Homo sapiens: one gene and its partners. The protein of the gene in region 4 interacts with the protein of the main gene of each other region in a pairwise test. Each region holds a gene or a part of one and is shown on either strand. Other genes may lie near its edges.

Region 1 (7,028 bases), on a different chromosome or scaffold from region 4:
AATTCCTAAGGGGCAAAAGGAGGGATGTGAAAACCTCTGCAGCCCCTTCGGAAGTTTCTTGTGAATATATGCACAGATAAACAGATGTGCATTTTAAAAATAAAAATGCTTTTAGATCTAATGCTAGGAGATTCAAACCAACAATTAATTTCTCTGTTAAAATGGGTTAAAATAGATGTAAAATATTAATATGTATATAAGCATTCTGAATTAGACTTATGTGAATTTTTCTCCTTTTCTTTCTTTCTTTTTGAGAATAAGCCCTTTCATTTACGTAGAAATGCTTCAGCGTTTAGATAATTGCTACTTATCTTGTTAGCTACAAACACAACCATAATTAAAGGCTCTGTAAGAATTATGAATTCTGGGGAAATTGGCCACTTGTCTCTGTGGCGTAAACAGTATCTAATTTATAACAAATCATCTGCCTTAGTCCCAGCAGGATAAGGTGATATGTATTGCCCAGCACATGAGAAAGATGGCAATTAGGAATTGTTACCAAGTTACGGGAGCCTCACACGAACATCCATCACCTTTGGGGATATGTACAAGATACAAACTTAATTTGATGGATTCCTTTTGTATTGGGATCAAAGTCTCAAAAGGGAAAGTGACAATTTCAGGGAAAATCTGGTGCAATGAGACCAACACTGATGAGAGAAATGCACACAATTTAATACACCTGCTCACCTGATGTGGCAACTCAGCCTGTGCTTGCTGTGGGTTGCCACAGGATGAGACATGGTCTGTGCATATTCCCAGCAGCCACCCATCTCATCACTATTCTTGCCAGCCCAGATTTACAGTTGTTCAATAGATGGATTTGGTAATATCTGCATGACAACAACAGGCAGAGAAGGTTAGATGGCAATTGATTCTTGATTGGTGTAAGTTTATAGAACACATTCTGGCAGGGCCCAAAGGAAATCACTCACCTACCCCTCTGTGATGGTAAAACGTTGAAAATTCCACGGACTTGGACCTTGTGATCCTTCAGTGGAAGATGGGCAGATTCCTTGCTTTAATTGACAGACACTTTCTAAATAACTAATGCAATCTTATATTACATTATAGTCCATAAGGGAGACATACTTAAACTACTACTTACAACAACTGTTTTTAGAGCCTTTCAAATGGTTTGTACAAAGTAGCTCCCATTTAAGATATTTTCCTAGTATTTAAGGCTATCTAGTAGACATTACAAAACAATACGCTGTAAATACATTCAGATTTTTATCAGTAATACTTAACATGCCGTAATTTGAACTTTCTGCTAAATCATGCTATCCATTCCTAGTTGGCCCCAATGGTGAGAGTTTACTGTTTCTTTAAATAATTTTGTTTCCCTTTGCTGTCTAGAGGTGTTTATCATTCTGCTTACTTGCCTGTGTCTCTGGAATATTCAGAAGGTTCCATGGGAAACAATTTGAATATGCAAAGAAGTTATTTTTAAAGCAAGGAAAATGTTTTCATATGGATTTATTTTGAGCACTTCTGCCTTTGCCTCCACTGGGAACATGTTTCTCTCCAACGCCGAAGCCCCCTCCCTGTGTGGTGTTTGACGCAGAGGCTGACAGGGCAGGGAAGTGGGGTTCAAGATAGGAAGGCCATTGGCAGTGTGACCCCAGCCCACAGTCCTAGATCCCAGGTCGTGACACCACTCTTTTGACAGCCCAGATTGTTACCTAACAAGAATGACTCCCAAGCTCAACCATTCCAATGCCATCTCCTCTGGTTCCAGATAAGATTGAAGATGAGCTGGAGATGACCATGGTTTGCCATCGGCCCGAGGGACTGGAGCAGCTCGAGGCCCAGACCAACTTCACCAAGAGGGAGCTGCAGGTCCTTTATCGAGGCTTCAAAAATGTAAGACCCGTGCACGCTCTGAAGGCCTGGGGGGGGTTCCCACGTGAGGCTACACTCTCCCCAATGCCAAGGGAGCTCATAAGGCGTTTCCCATATGTGAGGCTGTACAAGGAAGGCCAGCTCTATAAAGGGGGCATGAGAGGGAGATCACCTGGCTAGAAAGGAAGGCTCCAGGCGAGGATGGAGCAACCTCAGGAGACAGTAAACGGCCAACTGCCCAGAAATTTCACAGGGTGGCACATCCTCAAGGAATTCACCCTGGCCCAGGGTCAAGCCTTAGCCCTTAACATAATCATACCTTCCAACCTGGTGGTGCCCCCACAATAATGGGATTTGGCCCTGCTGACTTATGCTAACCAGGCTCACCGAGACTGATGTGTAAGCCGAATGTCGGTGTATTAATTTACCTTGGGAAATGGAACTGACAGTGGAAACAGACACTCCTCTCCCTTCGCTGGGACCCGCTCTCCTTGGAAGCCACATGGAAGCCAGGTTACAATCAAAAGTGGAGTCAGAGGACGGGAGTTCCTTGTTTAGTTGTTACTTTAAATACATTAATGTGTTCCTGCAGTCTCAGGCCAGTTTGAGAGCTCTCAGATACAATCCTGGATATTAATTTATTTTTTAAGTTTAACTCTCAGAGTGCAATCTTATTCCCAAATCCTGGAGTGGTGTGGAGTGGGGTGGGCTACAGCGACATGCACCTGGTCACCCTCCCTCCAGGTGCAGTCTGTAGGTAGAGCTGAGCTGGGTCAGTTCCAAACTGACCACAGCCTCAATGTTCTCCAAACTGCTGACCCACAGGGATTCCAGCCCCTCCTGGGAGTTATCTGACAGGTGCTGGGATGCCTCTTCCTTCCACACTAGCCTTGACTGCACATGCCAAGTGCCCAGTTTCCTACCATTAGGGCTTCTTTCCTTCGATGGCAGCATTAGCAGTGGGCAGCCGAGTTGGAGAAGGATCCTGTGGGAAAGTTTTCCAGGCAGGCACTGGGCTCAGAGGGAACAGCATCCAGAAAAGAGAAGAAATCTACACTGCTTGGCATCTACCATGGACTCAATACCACCTAACATAGGTTCATAAGATACCCTTGGGGAAGTTATTGTTACCCCCATTTTACAGGTAAGGATATTGAGGATCAGAGACTGGCTTGGCCAAAGTCACAAAGCTTAGTATTGGCTGAGCCAGGATTTAAACCCAGGTTTTTCTGATCTTAAAGCCCCAAATCTCTCCACCTCACAGTGCCCATTCTCTGACAATGTCTCATCATTTTGCAAAGCAGCTCCAGTCCTGAGATGGCACTACTTGGGAGAAGTGGAAATGCACAGGTCCCTGTCCCTGGGGATCATGAGGAACCCCAGACACCAAGGCTGGGCCCAGTCTTCTCCTAGTGCTGGCCCTCAAATGCCTCCCGCTGACTCTCTCCCCTTCCCACAGGAGTGCCCCAGTGGTGTGGTCAACGAAGACACATTCAAGCAGATCTATGCTCAGTTTTTCCCTCATGGAGGTGAGTCTGACCTTGAAATCTATCTTGCCCAGCTCCCTCTCTGGTAAGCAGCCTTCCCTTCCTCCAAGTCCTCTCTTCCTTGCCATTTGCTTCCTTCTCGAGGAAGAGACAAACTCAGGGCAGGACACCTCCCTCATCGTGAGAGGTGGGAGTCTCCAAAGCTTTAGCAGGAAAGAACTCTGAAAATGAACCCACCCTGGAAGGGGAAGAAGGGCTGATAATGCAACATCACAACGTCTCAGAACAGCTCTAGAAAGCAGGTATTATAATCCCAGATGGAGTAACTGAGTTTCGGGGAAGATAAGCAGTGTACTCAAGATTGCACAGCTGGTGAGTAGCAAACCAGGATTAGATTCCATAAGGGTCTGAAACAGGTTTTGCCATGCTGGCACCACCATTGTGCAGGGCACTTTTGAATCTTTTCCTTAAAATAGCTGAGACAAGCTGGAATTTTGTAAAAGAACTTCAGTAAATACCGAAGACTATAAAAATAAACTAATTGAAAAAGAGGCAGGAAACATAAAGTTGTGCTTATTAAGCCAGTTTACAAGTGTGCCAGGCCCACAACAGCTGCTCTGTTGCCCTGCCCGACTCCTGTGGGAACCAGCTGTGTCCCCATGGGCCTGGGACCACATCGGTGACTCCTCCTGTGGCCTCCATGTGTCACATGCCACTTTGCATCCTGTCACCAAGAGCTGTCTCCTGCAAGACATCTTCCCTGGATCCTGACAAAATGCAAATCCAAGTATTCCAAACACTTCTTGGGCCCTGTTTCTCATGGGCCTTTTTGGCAGCAGACAGATGCCTTCCTTGGTGTGTGGGGCCCCTACCCAGATCAGGTGGGGGAGGCAGTTTTGTCCCATGCAGGCCCCAGAATTGCAGTTTGCTGAGTTCCACTGAGCCACTGTTTATTGAGTTCTCACTGTATGCCAGGCACAGCTGTAGTTTAAAATACTTTTTAAAAAATTTCAAGAGATAGGTCTTGCTACATCCCATTGTAGAGAGGTAGGAAAGGGAAGCTCAGAGAGGTCGTGCTTGATGCCCACAGTCACATAGCTTATGTAGTACAGCGGCATCCAAGTTCAGGTCTCTCTACTCTGGAGTGAGTGCTCATCCCAGGCATTCATGGCCGTTCAGAAGAACATTGTCATGCAGTCACTGTGCCATTCATACACCAACGACTCCATGCATAGACAGGCAGGAGAATGGTTTTCTCATGATGGCTAGAGGGAGGGGCAAGGGCTCATCTCACTTTTTGCTAGATCTAACTTCACACCCAAACCCAAAGAGTTGAGTCAATGGGCCCCACTCCATAATTTTCTCCTTTCCATCACCCTAGCATCACTCTCCTCTCTTTCTTGTCGAAGCCCTGCCTTGTTTGGAAGGTTCTCCCTGTGTGGAATTCCTGCCCCCATCACCTGCCCTCCTTTTCTGCCTTGTAGATGCCAGCACGTATGCCCATTACCTCTTCAATGCCTTCGACACCACTCAGACAGGCTCCGTGAAGTTCGAGGTACGCTCATCTGGGGTCCACTCTAGGGGTCCTCTGGTTCTGCATCACCTCCCCCTCTAAATCTCAAGGCATTGGGGGAAGGTCTGGACCATCAAAAGCTCTCAGTCAGACCAAAGACATGTTTATCCATTTGTAAGCATTTCCTAAAGATGGGGAAAAGCAGCAGCAACTTTCCCTGGCCTGCAGGAACTCAGGGACTCAGGGGACTAATAACAACAGTGTATGAGCTTCCGGGCACACTGCTTCCCAGTGGCAGCCCCTGTACTTAGGGCTTTGTATGTATTAATTCATTTACTCCAATTCCCACAATAACCCTATAGGGTAGGGTTTTATTATTGATTACCTTTTTACAGAAGAGGAGAGTAAGGCAAAGAGAGATAGAGTAGTTTTCCCAAGGTCAAAGAGCACATAAATGATAAAGGATGGATTTGAATGTAGGCAGAATGACCCTCAATACAGACTGTTCCTACAGTCCACGTCCTCAGCCACTAGACCATACGGCCACTGGGATGATAGACAGACCACTGCAGCCATGGATAAGGCAAAAACAGGGCTGGCTGTGTTGATCTGTGTCTCTCAGAGCTCCATTCTTCCTCAAGGGGGCACCTTGCAAAAAAAAACAAAAAAATGGGGCAGGGTAGGGAACTGAAGGCAGGAGCTCTTCACAGAGCATAGCCACATCCTCCAGGCAGACAAGAGGACGCAGGAGGCACCATTCTGTGAGAGTATCACAGTCTGACCCAAAGACACAGCTTCACACTGTCTGATGGCTTGATGGTTAATGTCACTCTGCCTTTTCCCCTTCTCAGGACTTTGTAACCGCTCTGTCGATTTTATTGAGAGGAACTGTCCACGAGAAACTAAGGTGGACATTTAATTTGTATGACATCAACAAGGACGGATACATAAACAAAGAGGTAAGTGAGCTGGGGCCAGGGGTGTGAGAGGGCTCCAGTGAAGGTAACTAACCCAACAGAAAACAGCCCCAGGCATGAGGATAGCACTGTCTGAATGAGGCAGGCTCTGCTTTGGGGCTAACAGAGCTGGTCCCTGGCAAAATAAAGAAGGCCTCCCTCATTGCCCTACCCTGCCCTGTTCCCAAGCGCCCAGAAAGGATTAAACAGATTCATTCTCACTGGGTCACCTAGATTCAGTAGATATTACACAGTGGATAAAAATGACTTGTTTCAGTGTGAAGAGTTACTCTTCCCTAGGGAACCTGCATTTGGGAAGGTTAGGAGCCACAAGTCAAAGCTAAAAGTTGAAATGGTGGAATTGTAGGCAGCACCTAGAATAGAAAAGAAAGATTTTTAAGGAAGAGGAACCTACAATTGGGTCATATTGGCCTTAAACTATTTTGCCTATTAATACAACCGCCAAGGGGGTAATGGAAGGTACAGCTGTCTTTACAGAAATTATCACAAATAATTTCTGAATCTTCACTGCTTTGCACTTTTAGAACCTCAGAGGACATGTCTCTAGCCAGTGAAATACCCTCAGGTCTATCTCAAAACTCACTTTGGTATCCACTGTATCCTGGTATCTCAGTGGAAGCTGGAAATTGGCATCCTGTAACACTCCACTTGCTGAGCTCCTGTGTGCCAGGCACGGTGCCTGGAGGTATAGATATCAGCACCAATCTTCACCTCAACCCGGCAAGCTTCTCTCTGTAAGCTCAGAGAGTTTATCCAACTTTCATTCCTCATTCATTTAGTCATGTTTTTAATTAACACAGATTTGAAGGCTTATTAGGTGTTCTAGGTGCTGGAGGTAAAGAGGTGAACAATCAGACTAGGCCCCACACTGGAGCAGCATAGAGAGATGGACAATAAACAGGCCAAAAAGGAATCAGCAGGTAGAAGATATTTTGGCAGGGAAGGTTAGCAAAGGCCTCTCCAAGGAGGTGTCGTCATACTGGAACCAGTTATACAAAAAGCCAGGAAAAGTGTTCCAGGCAGAAGGAACAGCCACTAGAGAGGCTTTGAGGCAAGATAGAGCTTCATGTGTTTCAAAAACAGAAAGGCTTCAGATGGCTGCAGATGAAGGTATGAAGCTGAAGACTAGTGCAGGATGAGCCTGACAGGTCAGCAGAGTCAGATGGTGGAGGGCTAGGGTAAGGGGCCCATCCATATTCCCCTGGG
Region 2 (7,028 bases), on a different chromosome or scaffold from region 4:
AAAGCAGGGTTTTTTTTTTTTTGGTTTTGGTTTTGGTTTTTTTTTTTGATTTGGAGTCTTGCTCTGTCATTCAGGCTGGAGTGCAGTGGCACGATCTTGGCTCACTGCAACGTCTGCCTCCCAGGTTCAAGCGATTCTCCTGCCTCAGCCTCCTGAGTAGCTGGGATTACAGGCACCCGCCACCACGCCTGGCTAATTTTTGTACTTCTAGTGGAGACTGGGTTTCACCATGTTGGCCAGGCTGGTCTCAAACCCTGACCTCATGATCCGCCGGCCTTGGCCACCCAAAGTGCTGGGATTACAGGCGTGAGCCACTGCGCCCAACCGAAAAGCAGGTTTTTAAAAACATGGTTGAATTAATCTATAGGAGAAGTTACCGAACTCTTGTTCCTGAACTTGAGGTTGTTGAATAGTAACGAAGAAATGCTTCTGCAGAGACTGGGCCGTGTGGGGAGAGAGAACATGGAGAAACTGAAGGAGAGTGAAGCCAGGGCTTCTGAACAGGTCCGCAGCCTCCTAAAGCTCATCGTGGAGCTTGAGAAAAAGTGTGGGGAAGGCACCTTGGCATTGCTCAAGGTAAGATGCTGGGAAAAAGAAAATAAAATTCATTCCAGTATTTGAGAAATGAGAAGTGGACAGTACTCATTAGGGGTTGCTGTCAGAACACAATATCCAATGATCTTCAACCACAAAAGAAGGCTACATGACTTTCTTTCAGCTGCCAAAAGCTTTAGGAATGGTCATAGCTTTGTGGGATAGTGTGGAGCTGCTTCATGAGATGAATTCTCACCTTAAAATTATCAGCAGTAAGTTAGGGTTGAGATGTGACACAATGTGGTTAATACCTCCATGCAATGAAATATTCTGTGATCATAAAGAATAAAACAGCTCTATAGGCACTAACAGTATTTCAAGCACTCATTAAGTGAAAAAGAAAGATGCAGACTGCTTTTTGTTTGATCTTTGGATAATAAGTATATATACACACACATATACATGTGTGGTTGCTAACATTCACAGACTTTCTGGCAAAAAATTAATAAATGTATAGTCATCTGTGATAATCTTGAAACAAGGGTGAGATTATCTGCTATGATCTGAATGTTTGTGTCCCTCCAAAATATATATGTTGAAATCCTCTCCCCCAAGGCGATGGTATTGGGAGGTGGGGCCTTTGGGTAGTGAGTGGGGCCTGGGGGCAGAGCCCCTGTGAATGGGATTAGGGCTCTTATAAAAGAGGCCGAGGAAGACCTCACCCCTTCAGCTTGTGAGGCTGGAGATGGAGGCTACCTAGGAGGGATGGAGCCCTCACCGGACACTGAATCTGCCAGTGCCTTGATCTTGAAATTCGGCCTCCAGAACTGCGAGAAATGAATTTCTGCTGTGCAGAAGCTACTCAGTCTATGGTAAGTATTGCATATTTTGAATTTTGTATAGTAACATACGTTGCCTTTCAGAAAGTGGGTTACCTTTTTTTTTTTTTTTTTCCCCGAGACGGAGTCTCGCTCTATCTCCCAGGCTGGAGCAGTGGCGCAATTTCGGCTCACTGTAACCTCCGCCTCCCCAGTTCAAGCGATTCTCCTGCCTCAGCCTCCTGAGTAGTTGGGATTACAGGCGCCCACCACCATGTCCAGCTAATTTTTGTATTTTTAGTAGAAACGGGGTTTCACCATGTTGGTCAGTCTGGTCTTAAACTCCCGACCTCAGGTTATACGCCCACCTTGGCCTCCCAAAGTGCTGGGATTACAGGCATGAGCCACCGCGCCTGGCCTTACTATCTTTTTAAGACTGTCCATATCCCTCTCCTGGGCTTATAATTGCAATGAATGCGCTCATCTGGAAAGCGTCTGTAGGTAAATCCTTAGGAAGCAGCTCAGTTCTTGAGCATGCAGGCAGGTGTGGCTCTGCCTGGCTCCCACTGCCCTCCCAGCCAGTGGCCCCTTCACCTGCTGAACTCTGGCCACCCCCTGCATGGAAAGCAGATAGATGCTCCCGTCTGAAGACTGAGAAATGATGGCTCTGAGTAAGATGCCTGGGGTGAGGGATAGAAAACCTTTCCCTTGGGACTACGACAAAATGATTTCATGCATTTTTCTGACTTTTTCTGTTTCCATGTTAGAATTTGTTCATCTGATAACTAGCATTATGAGGTTGAAGAAATGACATGGAAATTGAGTTCATTGTAAGAGGATATTTTCCTGGGCACAGATTGCAAAAACAGCTCAAAAACCCAGTAGTAACCTGGTCTCTTTTCTTTCCCTTAGAATGCAAAATACTCTTTAGAAAGGTGAGTTTTCATTTTGGATACAATTGGGTGAGAATCAGAGTCCAGTAAGATGTTGATTGAGATAGGGAGATTGCATTTGCTGGTAGGATGTAATGGGATCCATCCAGTAGACTAAGGGGCCTGTGGTCTGTGCAGATGACTGAGGCTGTCCTTTCTCTTCAGGAGCAAGTCACTGCTGCTTGAGCATCTGGAGCCCGCTCATATCACAGACCTGAGTTTATGCCACATAAGAGGACTCAGCAGCATGTTCAGAGTACTCCAGAGTAAGTTGACACATGTGAATACTCACAGGGCACTGTTCTGCATTTGAGAATCAGGTGACCATCCTGCCATAAATGAAAACAAATTCCAGTAGTTTAACAATTTTAGGCCAGCACAGTGGGTCACTCCTGTAATCCCAGCACTTTGGGAGGCCAAGGCGGGCGGTTTGCTTGAGGCCAGGAGTTCGAGACCAGCCTAACCAACATGGTGAAATCCCATCTCTACAAAAAATACGAAAATTAGCCAGTTGTGGTGGCGTGTGCCTGTAGTCCCTGCTACTTGAGTGGCTGAGGTGGGAGAATTGCTTGAACCCAGGAGGTGGAGATTGCAGTGAGCTGAGATCACACCACTGCACCCCAGCCTGGGCAACAGAATGAGACTCTGTCTTAAAATAAATAAATAAAAATTTTAGGAGACTGGAGAGCTTAATATGTTATACATATTAGATAAGGATCAAAAAAATAACTGTATGATCTCATATGAAAGCTCTTCCCATGCAAAATCTTTTTTTTTTTTTTTTTTTTTTTTTTTTTTGAGACAGAGTTTCACTTTGCCCAGGCTGGAGTGCAGTGGTGCGATCTTGGCTCACTGCAACCTCCCCCTCCTGGGTTCAAGTGATTCTCCTGCCTCGGCCTCCCAAGTAGCTGGGATTACAGGCATGCACCACCACACCTGGCTAATTTTTTGTATAGTAGAGATGAGGTCTTACCATGTTGGTCAGGATGGTCTTGAACTCCTGATCTCAGGTGATCCACGCGCCTTGGGCTCCCAAAGTGCTGGGATTATAGGCGTGAGCCACCACGCCTGGCTAATTTTTTGTATTTATGGTAGAGACGAGGTCTTACCATGTTGGTCAGGCTGGTCTTGAACTCCTGATCTCAGGTGATCCACGCGCCTCAGGCTCCCAAAGTGCTGGGATTACAGGCGTGAGCCACCACGCCTGGCTGCAGATTCTTTACCAGTTCCCCAGCCATGAAACATGATTGCAGGCAGATTCCACTGCTTAAAAATTTAAAACTTCTGGGGAAGAAATTCAGCATGTATAACAAAGGGTTTATATCTCCTGTCCTTATAGCTTTGCCTTTCCCAGAATGTCCTATCGATGGAATCCTACAGTGTGTGGCCTTTCGAGGCTGACAGCATACTGCAGTTGACATATAGAACGTCCAGGCTGCTTCGTGTATCAGTAGTTTGTTCCTTTTTATTGTTGATAATATTCCATTGTATAAATATACCATAATTTACTTATCCTTTTGCAATTCTACGGACATGGGTTGTTTCCAGCTCTGTGCTGTAAATATTAGCAGCAGATTTTTGTGTGGGCACAGCTTCATAGTTCTTGATTGACTGTCTAAGGGTGGGATTGCCAAACTTGTTTTCCAAATTGCCTGTGCCATTTTGCCTTCCCACCAATAACGTGCGAAAGATTCAGTTACTCTGTATTCTCACCAGGGTTTGGTATTGTCAGTTTGTTTTACTACATCCGACCCGATAGATGGGTAGTGGTATGTCATTTTAATTTGCATTTCCAGAATGACTAATGATGCTGAGCATATTTTCATGTGTTTGTTTTCCCTCTATCTCAACTTTGGTGAAATACATGTACAAACCCCTTTTCTAAATTGGGTTGTATGTCTCTTGAGTTTTATAATTTCTTTATATGTTCTGTTTAGCATTCATTTATCAGATAAATTTTGCAAATATTTCCTCCCAGCATGGTTTGTATTCTCATTTTCCTAATACTGTCTTTTGAAGTGTAGAGGTTTTGCATTTTGATGAAGTTCAATTTATCAAGTTTTTTCTTTTATGACTTCTGCTTTTTGTGTCTTATTTAAGAAATTTTGCCAAAGCCAACAAAGATTTCCTTCCAAAAGTTTTATGGTTTTCGGTTTTACATTGTGGCCTATGAACCACTGAGAGTTAATATCTGTATACAGTTCACAGAATGGTGCAAACCCTCTCCTCCCCCCACCTTCTATTTTTATTTTTTGACTCACATGTATCCATTTGTTCCAGTTTCATTTGTTAAAAACACTACCTTTGTCCATTCAATTTACTTGGCCCCTTTGTTGAAAATCAACTGGTATATGCGATCACGTCTATTTGTGACTCTAATAGGTCTATTGATGGTTGACTCTTTCCCTTTGCCAATAGCACACTGGCTTGATTGATAACTCTGTAGGAAGTCTTGAAAGCAGGTACTGTGCATTCTCCAAATTTATTCTTTTTCAGAATAGTTTTGGCTACTGTAGGTTGTTTGCTTTTCCACATAAATTTTGAAATCAGCTTGTTGGCTTCTTCAAAATGGACCGCTGGGATTTTTATTCATATTACATTGAATCCGTTGATCAGTTTGGGGAGAATTGACATCTTGACAATATTTGGTGCTTTCAGTCCAGGAATACAAAATATCTCCATTTATTTAGGTCTTCGATTTCTCTCATCAGTGTTTTGTCACTTTCAGCATAAAATGTTATATGTATTTGGAGATGTATCCCTAAGTATTTTATGTTTTTTACAGCCACTGTAAACGGTATTTTAAAATATCAATTTCTAATTGACATTTCATTCATTTCTAGTTCATTGCAAGTATATAGAAATGGAATTGTTTTATATATATTGACATTTGTACCCTATAACTATGCAAAACTCACTCATTAGACAGTGGATTTCTATAAATAGATCCTTCAGGATTTTCTACAAAGTCATGCAGTATATGAGTATAGATAGCTTTATTTCTGCCTTTCCAGTCTGTAAGCCTTTTCTGAATTTTTCTTGCCTTATTATACTGGCTCAGACCTGCAGTGTGTTGAACAGAAGTGGTGAGAGTGGACACTTGCTTATTCTCGATCTTAGGAAGAAAGAAAACATTAAGTCTTTTCACTCTAAATTCTGATACAGCTATAGCGCTTTTTGTTGTTGTTTTGTGTTTTTTGTTTTTGTTTTTGTTTTTGTTTTTGTTTTTGTTTTTTGAGATGCTGTCTGGCTCTGTCACCCAGGCTGGAGTGCAATGGCGAAGCCTCAGCTCACCGCAACCTCCTCCTCCCAGATTCAAACGATTCTCCTGCCTCAACCTCCCGAGTAGCTGAGTGCCACCACACTCAGCTAATTTTTGTATTTTTAGTAGATACGGGGTTTCACTCTGTTGGTCAGGCTGGTCTCGAACTCCCAACCTCGTGATCTGCCTGCCTCAGGTTCCCAAAGTGCTGGGATTAAAGGCGTGAGCCACCGCACCTGGCCCTAGCTATAGTTTTTTTTAATGGCTGCCTTTCATCAAATTGAGGATGTCCCCCTTTATTTCTGGTTTACTAAGAATTTTTATGAATCAATGTTGAATTTATCAAGTTCTTTTTCTCTTGAGATACTCCTGTTGTTTCTTCAACCTTTTTTGTTTTTGTTTTTGAGATGAGCCTCGCTCTGTTGCTCAGGCTGGAGGGCAGTGGCATGATCTCGGCTCACTGCAACCTCTGCCTCCCAGATGCAAGCGATGCTCCTGCCTCACCCTCCTGAGTAGCTGGGATTACAGGCCGCCACCAGGCCTGGCTGATTTTTGTAATTTTAGTAGAGATGGGGTTTCGCCAGGCTGGTCTCAAAGTCCTGGCCTCAAGTGATCCGTCCTCCTCGGCCTCCTAAAATGCTGGGATTACAAGCGTGAGCCACCGTGCCCAGCCACAGCTGTGCGTTTTTCCAGAGATAATTTGCATTTGTTTCTGCCAGTCTCCTGGAAATACTGAGAGTCTCAGACAATTTTTTAAAAATTCAAGACGTGTAGCTGTTGAGACCACCCTAATAATGTGAATTGGGCTTCAAATTCAGAGATTTAAGTTCATTAAATTTACTTCAGTCAAATAATAGAAATTAAGCTGGATTCCACATTACAGAAAGTAGGAAATAAAGGCCTTCCAGGTTTATGGCTTAGACAACTGAAGCAATGAGGGAGCTGTGAACTGAGAAGTAGAGACTGCAGAGGGCTGGCGTTGAAGTTCCATTTTGGGTGTGTTATGTTTGAAATTCCTGTGTTTTTTCCAACTGGTATTTAGCTGTTTATGGAGCGAGTCACAAACACAGAGAAGATGTTTAAAACTGAAGCTATGCACAGTTACCTGGGGGCAGTGAAGGAGAATATACTACTTGAAAGAAGAAGTCCCAGGACCAAGCCCTGAAAGATCACAATAGTTAGAGGCTGGGCAGAAAGAGATGAGAGGAACAGTCAGAGATAGGAAGAAGACGTATTCATGCAGGTGTGAGGAATTCATTGAGCCTGCGTGTTCTCAGCGTGAGTTTCTGGAGGGTCCACACAGGTGTTCCATCCTCCGCTGATAAATTATCTGATGTAATGCCTGATGTCCAGGGCCTGTTGTCAGCAATTTCCAGGCCTCTATGTCACCCTGTGGGGATATTTAAGATGTGTAGAGTACGGCATCGGGAGGGCCACGAATGAGTTGCTGCTGGCCGACTCCTGTGGCCGCTCCAGGCTTGG
Region 3 (6,186 bases), on a different chromosome or scaffold from region 4:
AATGGAGTTGTAGTATTGTGGCGTTTTGTGTCTGCCTTCTTTCATTTAGCACAGTGTTTTCAAGGTTCATCCACATTGTAGCATGAATCAGTACTTCATTCCTTTTTATGGCCAAATAATATTCTACTAATTGAATATCTCAAATTTTGTTTTTTATTGACTGAACATTTCTGTAGTTTGCACTTGTTGGCTGTTGTGAATAATGCTGTTTGTAATGCTAATTAGCATGTGCGTACATCCTTTGTTCTTAATCTTAGGGGAAAGGCTTTCAGCCTTCATCTTCGAATATGATGTTAGATGTAGTTTTTCTTAGATGCCATTCTTTAGATCAGGTTGAGGAGTTCCCTTCTATTTCGACTTGAGTGTTTTTATCATGAAATGTTGGATTTTGTCAAATGCTTTTTCTATGTCTATTGATGATCATGAGGGCTTGTTTATTAATATAATGTATTACATCGATTGTTCTTTATTAATATGTTATTAATATCTTTGTTCTTTATTAATATGTATTACGTCGATTGACTTTCATATGTTGAATGTTATGATATTCTATAGAGCATATATAATGTTATTTTACTGCTTTGGTTTTATATAATATGAACCAATTTCTCTATATTTCAGGCATTTATTAATACAGCAAAAGAAATTTATGAAAAAATTCAAGAAGGAGTCTTTGACATTAATAATGAGGTATATACATATAAATATTGTTGGTCAATATTAATTTAGAGTTCACTTTTGATTACTATTTTATATTTTTTATTTTATAATTCATTATTTTATAATTTTTTTAATTCCTAAAATCAATCATGATAATCAGTTAACACCATTAGTTTACAGTCATCCAACTGAAAAATTGGTATATGTGGTATAGTAGTTAAATATTTATGTTCTAGTAGAGCAACACTTTGTCTATGGAAATGGATTAAAGTAAGTGGCCCTATCCATTCATTGCAAGCAATGCAAAATAATATAAATCCCCCAAAGAGAAAAGAAAATCCACTTTTATCCACATGACCATATGGTGTCATCTGCTTTGGGAATAATGTTCTGGTATATAAATGCATGTACTATGTACTAATGCAAGATGCTCTCTCTGTTATCTGGCAGGAAAGAGGGAAATACCAAATTTGGAAATTACTCCCAATATAGCATAGCATGTTTTCAGGAGACTAAATTCATATATATATATATAAAATTGGCATTTGGCATAGGGTTTTTTGTAATGTTATTTTGATCCTGTTTTGGTCAACATGATTAGGATAAAATGTAAAGCTTTGAAGCATCTAATTCAGAGTGTTCACCAAAGATCATCACTTGACCCACATCCCCACTCTGCATTTATCTGTATTTATTTCAAAATGTTTATGTGGATGTAGCCTACTTATTCTTACATAAATATTTTTGCCATTCTGTATTAAGATTTCTGGCTTCTGAAAGAAAAGCCCTGGTTTCTCCCCAGTTGCAGTTAGAAAAGCATTGTGTTAGGAAGCCATTATGTATGTCTCTCTCATCCTATACATAAATGAGGCTCTCTATTACTTCAGTAGTCTCTGCTCAGACAAACAGCAGTTTACCTAAGGTTTCCAAAAAGTACATGATTTTTTCATTGTTTAATTTGGAGTAATATAGTTTCTAAATCCTATCTTCTAGGCTTATATGACGGTACTTCTTGAGTTAGTTTAAAGGTGACACCATTCAGAGACTAATGCCATATAAATTGAACAGTAATTGGGCCTCTATCTAAAAGGGCACATTCATTGTTTCTGTCTGGTTTCATATAGTAGCTGACTGCTTTACTGTGCCTTATGCAGCTTTGATTGTAATGTGCTGTTGGGAGCCAACAGGCCGTGCTATTTATTTGGCCTAATGCCAAGTCTGACTCCTTGACTCCTCAAGAAGTTGCTACCAGCCCAGAGGGGGCAAAATCAATGAGCCATAGGGCATGCTTTTTATTAAAGAGGAGTCAAAAGAGCGAAAAGAAACCACATCAGCTGCTGTCAATACTGAGCTAGTGCCAGAAACCCCAAGGCTACTACTGTTGCAGAACAACTGCCAAGCACTATAAATCTGAGATTTACTGTGACGTAAAGTTTCCTTAAGAGCTTAATTTCTGAAGCTACTGTATTACTTTTCTCAAAGTGTTGTATTTTTAGGTAAAATCCACTTGAGGGAGTGAGGGTTAAGACATAAGTGTGAGTTTGATGAATGAAAGAACTACTCTGTGTGTGGGTTCTTGGCAAGCTGCCATGTCTTTGGGGATCATAGAAATTATTGATGACACAGAACACTCATATGCCCTTAGCCTGTACAGCTGATTCAACATGGAACAGAAACACTGTCTAGAGAAAAGATTTTACGTTGTATTAAAGCAGCATGGGCTTTGGGTATTTTTATGCTTTAAAGATTACTTGCAATAATTATTTTAAATGATTTCTGCATTATGAGAATTTCCTGAAAAGCAGCATTATCCAATAACTGTTTACCCCGTACCTGGTATGATAAAGAATTATTTTCAGAAACATTTCCACAGTGTTTTTAAAAGGAAGGAACATCCCTTAGGAGATATTGTTTTAATTGTTGCTAAAATCTACTTGCTGTATTTTTCTCAGTTGTTTGATAAAATTGTATCATAAAGAATTAAATGAGTTTTTTAAGAATTAGTTAAACTATATTGTCTGGTCATATTTATTGTTCTGTTCTCTTTTATTTCAGGCAAATGGCATTAAAATTGGCCCTCAGCATGCTGCTACCAATGCAACACATGCAGGCAATCAGGGAGGACAGCAGGCTGGGGGCGGCTGCTGTTGAGTCTGTTTTTACTGTCTAGCTGCCCAACGGGGCCTACTCACTTATTCTTTCACCCCCTCTCCTCCTGCTCAGCTGAGACATGAAACTATTTGAAATGGCTTTATGTCACAGAAGACTTTAATCCGTCAAATTCTTGTATAACTTTGAATAAATGGTTAATGTTCACTTAAAAGACAGATTTTGGAGATTGTATTCATATCTATTTGCATTTGATTTCTAGGTCAATTGATGTGATTATTTTTGTTAAATGTTGTCTTGTGCCCTTAACTACGAACTGAATTGTATTAAACACTACAAAGTCATCTTGAGTATTTTAAATCGGTTTGTGTAGTTAGGTTTCCCAACATCTGTGGTTACCTAATGTTTAATATTATAGAACTGTCCTCAGAAACTTTGTCAATTTTCACGGCTATAAGGAAACAGAAGGACTCTTTTAATTCTGTATTTATCATTTACTTTCTGTATATATAGTTTAATAACCTGCTTGGGTGTAATTTGCCAAGCTTGAATTCTTTAATGCATTTGCATAAATTCTATACTGTTTAGAGCTTAAAGCTACAGAAGCATTGTTAGGAATTGCTTGGACACTGAATTTTAAACTTTTTGACATTGTTAACAAGCATGTTCATCTTTTCTTGTCACTAGTCCAAGAAAAATATGCTTAATGTATATTACAAAGGCTTTGTATATGTTAACCTGTTTTAATGCCAAAAGTTTGCTTTGTCCACAATTTCCTTAAGACCTCTTCAGAAAGGGATTTGTTTGCCTTAATGAATACTGTTGGGAAAAAACACAGTATAATGAGTGAAAAGGGCAGAAGCAAGAAATTTCTACATCTTAGCGACTCCAAGAAGAATGAGTATCCACATTTAGATGGCACATTATGAGGACTTTAATCTTTCCTTAAACACAATAATGTTTTCTTTTTTCTTTTATTCACATGATTTCTAAGTATATTTTTCATGCAGGACAGTTTTTCAACCTTGATGTACAGTGACTGTGTAAAATTTTTCTTTCAGTGGCAACCTCTATAATCTTTAAAATATGGTGAGCATCTTGTCTGTTTTGAAGGGGATATGACAATAAATCTATCAGATGGAAAATCCTGTTACAAAGTAGAAAAGCTTTAGTAATTTACTCAGTGTGGTGGTTTTATCCTTTTTTTCTTTTTCTCCCTTGGTCTATAATGAAATTGTTACAGCAGTGCAAAATAAAATCCTATGTATAAAAGTGTTCTTTTTTTTTATTATGACCACCTCTTTTTTAATGTATTTTTAGTCCACTTACAGCTTTTACATGGGTTTAAGCATGTTTTTTAAAAGGGTCAGAATGGTTAACACTCAACCCTTTTTAAAAATTTTGCTAAAATGCGACAAATCTCACCATACTGAAATTATTTTTGTTGATGGTGTAAGCAGTGTAAGCAAGTGTTTTCTCCTGAACTAGCACAAAAGCACTTATGCCTGAAAGAAAGCATAAAGAAGTTCTAACTCTGAAACTAACTACTTTCATTTCGCTCATGGCCTTCAACTTTCTACAGGTCTTCCCTGAAGATTCAGCAGTACTCTCTCAAAGGTTTGACAGTACTCTTGTGGGAAATCACCAAATGCTGTCATAGTTTTGTTTTAACTGTCTCCTTGAGGGCAGAGGGAAGGGTGAGAGAAAATCTGTTTTCATGGGTATTTGTAGTACAGCCTTTTTTTCTTTCAAGTGGCTGTATCAAATTCACTGGTCTTACTAATCACTGTCTTTACCAGTGAGTACAAAAAGTTAAGGCAACTAGGACAGGTACTGCTCTATACCAAGAAGAGAATGATTCTTTGGAAATTGTTATTTTTAAGCTTCTGTTAATTTTTCCAGAAGTTTAGTGCGTTTCTTTTCCATACTTTCTCCCCTAATTCTTTTATTTGAAGAAGAGAACTTAATGGCAAATAAACAACAAACCAGGACATGCATTTTAATACCCTAAGGAAAAATGGAACCCTCAAATATAACTCCTCCCACAACCACCCTAATGTGCCTCAGTCTGGGGCAGCAGGTGGACTTCTCAATAGTTCTTTTCCACATTCTCTACAAATCACATCTACCGTTAAGGAATATGTTATGAATCCTTTCTGTTAATTGAGAAAGCAATGTTATTGTCTGTGATTTCCAGTCTTTGCTCATTTTATTATCCCTGTCAAATAATGTAATATTGGTACCTGCAGTTGAATTTGTAATATTGTAATTGAATTTTTAGTTGATCTTCGATCAGTTTTTATAGCATCTATGGACATAGAAAATCAGTCACTGAAAAAAATAAACACAGCTTTCAATGTCTCACTCAACATGTAACATTCAAAATTGTGATCTTCATAAAGACATTGTTACCATTCGTCTTGCAAATTTAAGACAACTGAATGAAAAGCCAATTTTTTGAAAGAATGTGGCATATAATTAGATATACAACTGAAACAGGATATACAACTGCATACAATTTGTTTTTAATGATATTTTAAAATAGCCTGTTAGCAGGAAAATAGTCCCTATTTATCTGCTAATGGTCAAAAAGAGTTAGGATATAAATCGTACCAAAATGTTTCCAATCACTCAGAAAAACTGATTCATGTCTGGCTTTGCAACACCTTAAACATTTATTCTGTCATAGATAGTAAAGCCCCATCTCAGTTTATTTAGTCCTGAGGTTGGCAGCATGGGGTTTGACTATATGAGCTAAAAGATACACAAAGAGATAACGCTGTTTCATAATAAACAGGAATTGACTATACAAATAGGTAAACCAGCATATCTACCTGTATTTCTCAGAGTTTAGATGTGTGCTTTATGTTTACATTAAAATAAAGCCTAACGCCACAGTAGATCATCTCATACTGCATTCGGATGTACTAGGTATTATTATTTTTTGGTTGAAGTCACGACAGAGAACTTCATTTTATTTATTTTGTTTATTTTGGGAGACAGGTCTCACTCTAATCCCCCAGGCTGGAGTGCAGTGGCGCCGTCTTGGCTCACTGTGACCTCCACCTCCCCAGGTTCAAGTGATTCTCATGCCTCAGCCTCCCAAGTAGCTGGGATTAGAGGTCCCTGCCACCACGCCCGGCTACTTTGTATTTTTAGTAGAGACGGGGTTTTGCCATGTTGGCCAGGCTGGTCTCAGACTCCTGACCTTAGGTCATCTGCCCACCTCAGCCTCCCAAAGTGCTGGGGTTACAGGTGTGAGCCACCATGCCTGGCCAAAAACTAAGTGCCAGTCTATATATTAGTATTAATTAGTTTTACAAAATTATGAGGCCAATTCTTAAACATTGAAGGACAAAGCACCAAACTCCTGATAGAAAAATGGAGGAAAATGAGCAATTTACAAAAAACATACAA
Region 4 (7,294 bases):
CAGTATATAGCTTTGGAGAAATGCCTCACTGTTAAGGTCAAAGCCCTGCATGATCTCACTCTATTCTCACCTCGTCTGCTGTCACTCACCTATCATTCACTCTACTTAAAGGCATGCTGACTTCCTTGCTTTTCCTCAAACACAACAGGCATAGCCCCAAGTTCCATCCATTGCACTGCCTACTCTCTGTGACACTACCCCCTTTGACCTTGAGCTTGTTTCTCCCTGGCTTTCAGTACTCTAATCTGTAGAATGCTTAGAGTAATAACACCTACCTGCTATGGTTCGAATGTTTCTCCCCTCCAAAACTCATGTTGAAACTAAATCTCTTTTTTAACAGAATTAAGGAGGTGGGAAATCTGACTACGGTATTTGAGAGATGGGACCTTGAGCGGTAATTAGGATTAGATTAGATGAGGTCATAAGGGTGGGGCATTAGTGGTTTTCTAAGAGGAGAAACAGATCTGAGCTAGCAAGGTCAGCACCCTTACCATGTGATGCCCTGCTCTGCCTCGCCACTCCACAGAGAGGCCCCACCAGCAGAAGGCCCTCACCAGATGTGACTCCTTGACCATGGACTTCCCAGCCTCCAGAACTGTAAGAAATAAATTTCTTTTCTTTCTTTTTTTTTTTTGGTGGGGGGGGGGTGTTGTTGTTGTTGTTGTTTTTAGAGACAGGGTCTCACTCTGTCACCCAGACTAGAGTGTAGTGGCATGATCACAGCTCACTGCAGCCTCAAACTTCTGAGCATAAGCAATCCTCCTGCCTCAGCCTCCTAAGTAGCTAGTACTACAGGCATACTGCCATGCTCAGCTAATTTTTAAATTTTTTTGTAGAGACAGGGTCTTGCTATGTTGCTGAGGCTGTTTTGAACTGGCCTCAAAGCAATCCTCCCACCTCAGCCTCTCAAATTTCTTTATAAATTACCCAGTCTTGGGTATTTGATTATAGCAACAGAAAAATGGACTAAGATACTACCTCATAGGGTTTTTATGCAGATTATAAGAATTAATTTATGTAGACTGCCTAGCATATACTTTATATTTGTTGAATGGAAGAATGAATAAACAAAAAAGAAAGTTCTCCCCAGGACTATGGCAAGGACCTCCTTTTTGATCTCCTTGCTTCCAGTATCTTTCCATCCAAAGCTCTCCCCAGGACCAAGACAGAGGCATCTGACCACATCATACCCCTGTCTAAACCTTTGCCCCAGTGTCCTTAGGATCGATTCCAAACTCCAGGCTAATGGTTTGCACATCCCACCCTATGATAAATGAAAAGCAGGCTCTTACTCCTTGTTTCCATCAGAAAATCCAGCAGTGCTATAAGTGATTTTGACTCTAAACACATGGGGCAAGAGAGACATGCCAATAATCCTTTTCTGGCTTTCAGAGAAAATCCCCATTATTTATACCTTCTAAAAATAGAGATATCTATTTAATGTTAATACCAAGGCAACATGTTGTCTTAAAAGACACCAAAATAGAATTGCAGACTTACCTAAAAAGTTAACCTTGAGGGTTGCGTCCATATGACACGGACACAATAGTTGGAGTGCTAGTATCTTACAAGACTCCTTTGTTGGAAATAACATTTGTTTTTGTTTTTTGTTTACTTTTTTTTTTTGAGACGGAGTCTCGCTCTGTTGCCCAGGTTGGAGTGCAGGCTGGAGTGCAGTGGCGGCTCACTGCAAGCTCCGCCTCCCAGGTTCACACCATTCTCCTGCCTCAGCCTCCCGAGTAGCTGGGACTACAGGCGCCCGCCACCACGCCTGGCTAATTATTTTGTATTTTTGGTAGAGACGGGGTTTCACCGTGTTAGCCAGGATGGTCTCCATCTCCTGACCTCGTAATCCGCCCGCCTCGGCCTCCTAAAGTGCTGGGATTACAGGCGTGAGCCACTGTGCCCGGCCAGAAATAACATTTGTAAGTGCAGCCTGTATTTTGTCCAAACCGCACGGATGTTGTGCAATTAAGTGGGAAGACTGCCTTTTTGCATTTTGCCACATATAAAGTTTCTCAGAAGAGTCTAAGATATATTCAATAATTCAGCCAATATCTAGTAGACATACACCATTTAAGAACAGGACCAACCTTAACATGTTATGAAGATTAGGTAAGACAAAAGCAAAGTTTTGTGGGCTTTTTTTTTTTTTTAATCAGGTTCTCACTCTGTCACCCAGGCTGGAGTGTAGTGGCGTGATCACAACTCCATTGCAGCCTGGACCTCCCAGGCTCAAGTAATCCTCCCACCTCAGCCTCCCGAATAGCTAGGAGCACAGGTGCGCACCATCAGACCCAGCTAATTTTTTTTTTTTAATTTTGTAGGGACAGGGTCTTCCTATGTTGCCCAGGCTGGTCTCAAACTCCCCGGCTCAAGCGATCTTCCCACTTCGGCCTCCCAAAGTGCTGGGATTACAAGTGTGAGCCACTGTGCCTGACTCAGTTTATTTTTTAAAATTTTTCTTCATTTATTCTTGGCTTCTTCCATTCATTGTTTTGATCACTAACTATGTGCTCAGCACATTGCTGAGCCTTTTGCATGCTCTGCTGGGCATTCCCCATTTGCTCTTCCGGATCCATTATCCACCCTGCTCTGGGACCCCAAAAAGCTGATCTTTTATAGATGGTATCATTTGGGCCCCATTGATTGGTTCGTAGTTGAGCCTGGCCACTTCTCTTTCAACTGGTCCCTGGCAGTCAGTACCAACATTTTAGTCAGGTTTCAAAGAAATCTCTAGACCAAGCTGGACAGAGGGCTTTTCCAGTGATTCAGTGATTCCCCAAGATCTGAGAATGTGAAACTTGGAAAAGGGACACAAAGACCGGGGATCCTTTGAGCTGGTTCAATAATGGCAGAGCTTTAGAGATATGCTGCTGAGCTCCCTGGGTCTGTCTCGCTTTCTGCCTTCTGAAGGCTTGATTGTTAACTTCTTCCTGGGTTTCAATTAGAAGCATTAGTGTCCTTCCTGGAGTTGAATTACCTGGAAATTTGCCTCCTAGATGTGTAAACTTGGGAAAGTATGATCTCGTCAAGTTTCAGACAAAGGCAAACTAAAAAGCTAGAACTCCAGAGAGCATAATAGTGTTTTTTGGGGGCAAATTATTTAATGAAGTATAACATTCATACAGGAAGTACAAAAATCATCAGTGTACAAAATCTCCATGAATTTTCACAATGTGTAAACCATTTTCCTGTTTTATCTGACCTTACTAAGTCAGGGTATAAATTATTAATTTTTTTTGAAACAGGGCCTTGCTCTGTGGTGCAGGTTAGGGCAGTGGTGTGATCACCGCTCACTGCAGCCTTGACTTCCTGGGCTCAGCCATCCTGCCGCTTCAGCCTCCCGAGTAGCTGGGACTGCAGGTGTGCGCCACCACGTCCAGCTAATTGTTTAATTTTTTGTTAGAGACGGGGTCTCGCTGTGTTGCCCAGGCTGGTCTAGAACTCCTGGGCTCAAGCGATCAGCCCGCCTCGGCCTCCCAAAGTGCTGAGATTATAAGGCGTGAGCCACTGCACCCTGCTGAGTATATTTTTAAAAACACTTTACCCGAGGGCTGTGGCTCACACCTGTAATCCCAACACTTTGAGAGGCCGAGACGGGTGGATCACTTGAGGTCAGGAGTTCGAGACTAGCCTGGGCAACACAGCTAAACCCTGTTTATACAAGATATACAAAAATTGGCTGGGCGTGGTAGCACGCGCCTGTAGTCCCAGCTCTTGGGAGGCTGAGGCAGGAGGATCGCTTGATCATAGCTCACTTTGAGGCTACAGTGAGCTGTGATCGCGCCATTGCACTCCAACCTGGATGACAGAGCGAGACCCTGCCTAAAAAAATAAAAAAAAAAAGGATTTTTTTCTGTTCAGTGGATTCATTTGAAGCGAGGGCCACTGGTATTTGAAATAGATGACATCATCTGCCAGCAGAGGCGTGAGGCAACTTGAGGCGGGGTGTGGGCCTGACGTCATCACGCAGCCTCTTCCTTTCCCCGCCCCCTTCTCTTGGCGAACGAGGCGTCAGTTTAACACCTCCGTGAATCCGGAAGTATGCTGTCAAAACAACCAAACCACGGGGCTGGGGGAGGCGGGGCCTCAGTAGGCGTCTGCACGCTAGCTGAAATAGAGCAAAATGCCCGACTTTTGGGGGCGGGGCTCCTGGCAACAGCACTCTAGGCGCAGGCGCAGAGGCGACCTCCAGGCAGGGCCAGGTGGGAGGGACGGTGGGGGGTAGGGTCGCGCGGCGCCCTCTGCGCCTGCGCCCCGGCACGAGGTGGGGCGGCGGGCGTCAGTACAGTAGAGTGTGCGCCGGGGTGGGGGGCAACGGTCAGCCGTCACCCTGAGACGGGCGGCGGCGGGATGGCAACAGCCTCCGGGGCCTCGGACTTGTCTGGCTCCGGAGCGCCCCCGCCCGGTGTGGGAGCTCAGGCGGCGGCGGCCGCTGAGGAGGAGGAGCGAGAGGTGGTGCGGGTCCGAGTCAAGGTGAGGCTGGCGGTGAGTCGGCCCAGCCGCCGAGGCATCCCAGGGGAGGGGGAGGCGGTGGCTGTCATAGGATGGAGGGCGGGACCTGAGATTTCGGACATAACCTGAGCGGCGAAGCTTGAGGGCCAAGTGATGATGGCGAGGGGTAGGGAGGGCCTGAGAGCCTGAGAGCGTTAGCGACGTACCTTGGGGCGTGGGACTGAAAATAGAGGGACGAGGCGGGGGTCTATGGGATGAATGGGTGGAGCTTATAGACAAAGGGGAGGGGCTATGGGGCTGGAGGAGGGGCCGCAGTAGTTGAGGGTGGGGCTCTGAGGAATGAGAAGGTGCTGGCTCTGGAGTCAGTCAACCCATGTGTTGAGAGTGCACTTATGTGCAAGTTCCCACTTTGATGAGCTGACAGGCTCGTGGGTGGAGACAACTAAAGAAATGAGATGCTTCGGACACTAAAATAATGAAAAAGGTTATGAAATAGGGAGTCACGTTAGCCAAGGTTGTACAGGGAAATCCCCAGAGGAGGTATTGAAGGAGCAGAGACCCGAATAAAAGGAGTCAGCCATGTGCATATTAGAAGGGAAGAGTATTCTAGGCAGAAGGAATAGCAAGGGCAAAGACTAGAGGATGGGAATGAGCCTGGCATGTTCCCGTAGGTTCCTGATTGCTGGAGTGGAGAGAATGAGGGGAAGAGTGGTAGGAGGTGAATCAGAGCGCTAAGACAGAGACAGATCGCCAAGGGCCTTTGGTGTGTATGCTGAGGAAGAACGCTGTTGCCATAGTTCCAGTAAACAATGATGGTGGCTCCGACCAACCAGTGGCACTGGCAGTGATAAGAGGGTCCACACATCACTTCAGTGTAATAGAGCTCTAAGGTAGAAGTTTGACATTCAGAAAAAAGATGATGCCTGAGCTGGGCGTGAACCACGTGAAGAAAGTGGGAGGGATGTTCCAGACAGGGGATCAGCACAATCAATGGCCTGGAGTCAGGATGGTTTCAAGGTAACTTCTAACAGTTTGGTACTACTAGAGTGTAAAGTTCAAAAAACCTGGTGAGAGGCTGGCTGGGGCCCCATAGGCCCGCTTGCTGGGACTCTAGGGTTGCCATTGAAGAGATTGAAGCAGGGGAGTGTTGTAGGTAGATGTGTTAGATTGGTTACAGCACCATAGAGGACTGATTTAACAGGAGCCAGACTGGACACGGTGATTCTGGCAACCATAGTTGAAGGGATATAGAAGAAGGATTGGGGGCCTGAACTCTTGCAGTAGCCTCCTCCTCACTGGACCCTGTGGTCCAGAACACCTGCCTTGATCTGGCCCCTGGCACCTCTCTGACTTTGCCTTCTACCACTCTGCACCTCACTCTTCAGCATGGTGATGGGGCCCCTGGTGGCCTACCCCATGTCTTCTCTCCCCAGAAATGTGAGAGCTTCTTGCCGCCAGAGTTCCGCTCTTTTGCTGTAGATCCCCAGATCACCTCGCTCGACGTGTTGCAGCACATCCTCATCCGAGCCTTTGATTTGAGTGGGTGAGTGGGAAGATGCTGGGGACTGGCCAGTGGGCCACCGACCTCTACAGTGGCTATCTGGCCTTTGTTTGGTAGGGTTTTTGTTTATTTTACTACTACAAATAATCCCACAGTGAACAGCCACGTATGCATGTCTTGGAGCACAGTAGTCTACTTTTGTCTGTGGTTTTGCTTTCTGCAGTTTCAGTTACCCATGGTCAACCTCAGTCTGCAAATATTACATACAATAAGATATTTTGAGAGAGAGAGAGAGACCACATTCATATTACTTTTATTACAGTTTACAGACAGTCCCCAACTTACAATAACTGGACTTAGGATTTTTCAACTTTACAATGGTGCAAAAGCGATACGCATTTGGTAGAAACTGTACTGCAAGTGCCCAGCGATTCTGCTTTTCACTTTCAGTACAGTGTTCAATAAATTACATGAAATATTCAACACTGTTGTAAAACAGACTCTGTGTTAGATGATTTTCCCAACTGTAGGCTAATGTGAGCGTTCTGAGCACGTTTAAGGTAGGCTAGGCTAACCTGTGATGTTTGGTAGGATAAATGTGTTAAATGCATTTTCCTTTTTATTTCTTTTTTTTTTTTTTTTTGAGATGGAGTCTAACTGTCACCCAGGCTGCAGTGCAGTGACATCTCCCAGGTTCAAGTGATTCTCCTGTCACAGCCTCCCAAGTAGCTGGGACTACAGGCATGCACCACTATGCCCGGATAATTTTTTTTTTTTTTTTTTTTGAGACGGAGTTTTGCTCTTGTCCCCCGGGCTGCAGTGCAGTGGCGCAGTCTCAGCTCACTGCAACCTCCGCTTCCCGGGTTCAAGTGATTCTCCTGCCTCAGCCTCCCAAGTAGCTGGGATTACAGGCACGCACCACCACGCCTGCTAATTTTTGTATTTTTATTAGAGACAAGGTTTCACCATGTTGGTCAGGCTAGTCTCGAACACCTGACCTCAAGTTACCTGTCCACCTCGGCCTCCCAAAGTGCTAGGATTACAGGTGTAAGCCCCCGCACCCAGTCCCAGATAGTTTTTTGATCTTCTCTTTTTTTTTTTTTTGGAGACAGAGTCTCACTCTGTCACTTAGGTTGGAGTGCAGTGGTCCGATGTTGGCTCATTGCAGCCTTTGCCTCCCGGGTTCAAGTGATTCTCATGCCTCAGCCTCCAGAGTAGCTGGGATTACAGGTGTGCACCACCACACTCAGCTAATTTTCATGAGGTTGGTCAGGCTGGTCTCAAACTCCTGATCTCAAGTGATCCGCCCACCTCGGCCTCCCAAAGTGTTAGGAT

Evidence for each region.
Region 1: the proteins of TBC1D25 (region 4) and KCNIP1 interact in binary tests that used the Homo sapiens proteins (3 or more experiments, as listed by UniProt).
Region 2: the proteins of TBC1D25 (region 4) and TRIML2 interact in binary tests that used the Homo sapiens proteins (3 or more experiments, as listed by UniProt).
Region 3: the proteins of TBC1D25 (region 4) and RAB2A interact in binary tests that used the Homo sapiens proteins (3 or more experiments, as listed by UniProt).

What each region holds. Positions count from the first base shown.
Region 1 is NC_000005.10:170,717,017-170,724,044, forward strand, and holds part of KCNIP1 (A-type potassium channel modulatory protein KCNIP1), read left to right. Parts: intron 1-1,741; coding exon 1,742-1,866; intron 1,867-3,304; coding exon 3,305-3,374; intron 3,375-4,741; coding exon of another isoform or gene 4,742-4,816; coding exon 4,817-4,887; intron 4,888-5,696; coding exon 5,697-5,804; intron 5,805-7,028. UniProt on the Homo sapiens protein: Regulatory subunit of Kv4/D (Shal)-type voltage-gated rapidly inactivating A-type potassium channels. Regulates channel density, inactivation kinetics and rate of recovery from inactivation in a calcium-dependent and isoform-specific manner.
Region 2 is NC_000004.12:188,092,583-188,099,610, reverse strand, and holds part of TRIML2 (probable E3 ubiquitin-protein ligase TRIML2), read left to right. Parts: intron 1-435; coding exon 436-576; intron 577-1,331; coding exon of another isoform or gene 1,332-1,406; intron 1,407-2,264; coding exon 2,265-2,287; intron 2,288-2,449; coding exon 2,450-2,550; intron 2,551-6,588; coding exon of another isoform or gene 6,589-6,629; exon of another isoform or gene 6,630-6,821; intron 6,822-7,028.
Region 3 is NC_000008.11:60,617,959-60,624,144, forward strand, and holds the end of RAB2A (ras-related protein Rab-2A), read left to right. Parts: intron 1-621; coding exon 622-690; intron 691-2,715; coding exon 2,716-2,811; 3' UTR 2,812-5,686; downstream 5,687-6,186.
Region 4 is NC_000023.11:48,535,442-48,542,735, forward strand, and holds the start of TBC1D25 (TBC1 domain family member 25), read left to right. Parts: upstream 1-4,272; 5' UTR 4,273-4,356; coding exon 4,357-4,479; coding exon of another isoform or gene 4,480-4,491; intron 4,492-5,843; coding exon of another isoform or gene 5,844-5,891; coding exon 5,892-6,001; exon of another isoform or gene 6,002-6,013; coding exon of another isoform or gene 6,014-6,072; intron 6,073-7,294. UniProt on the Homo sapiens protein: Acts as a GTPase-activating protein specific for RAB33B. Involved in the regulation of autophagosome maturation, the process in which autophagosomes fuse with endosomes and lysosomes.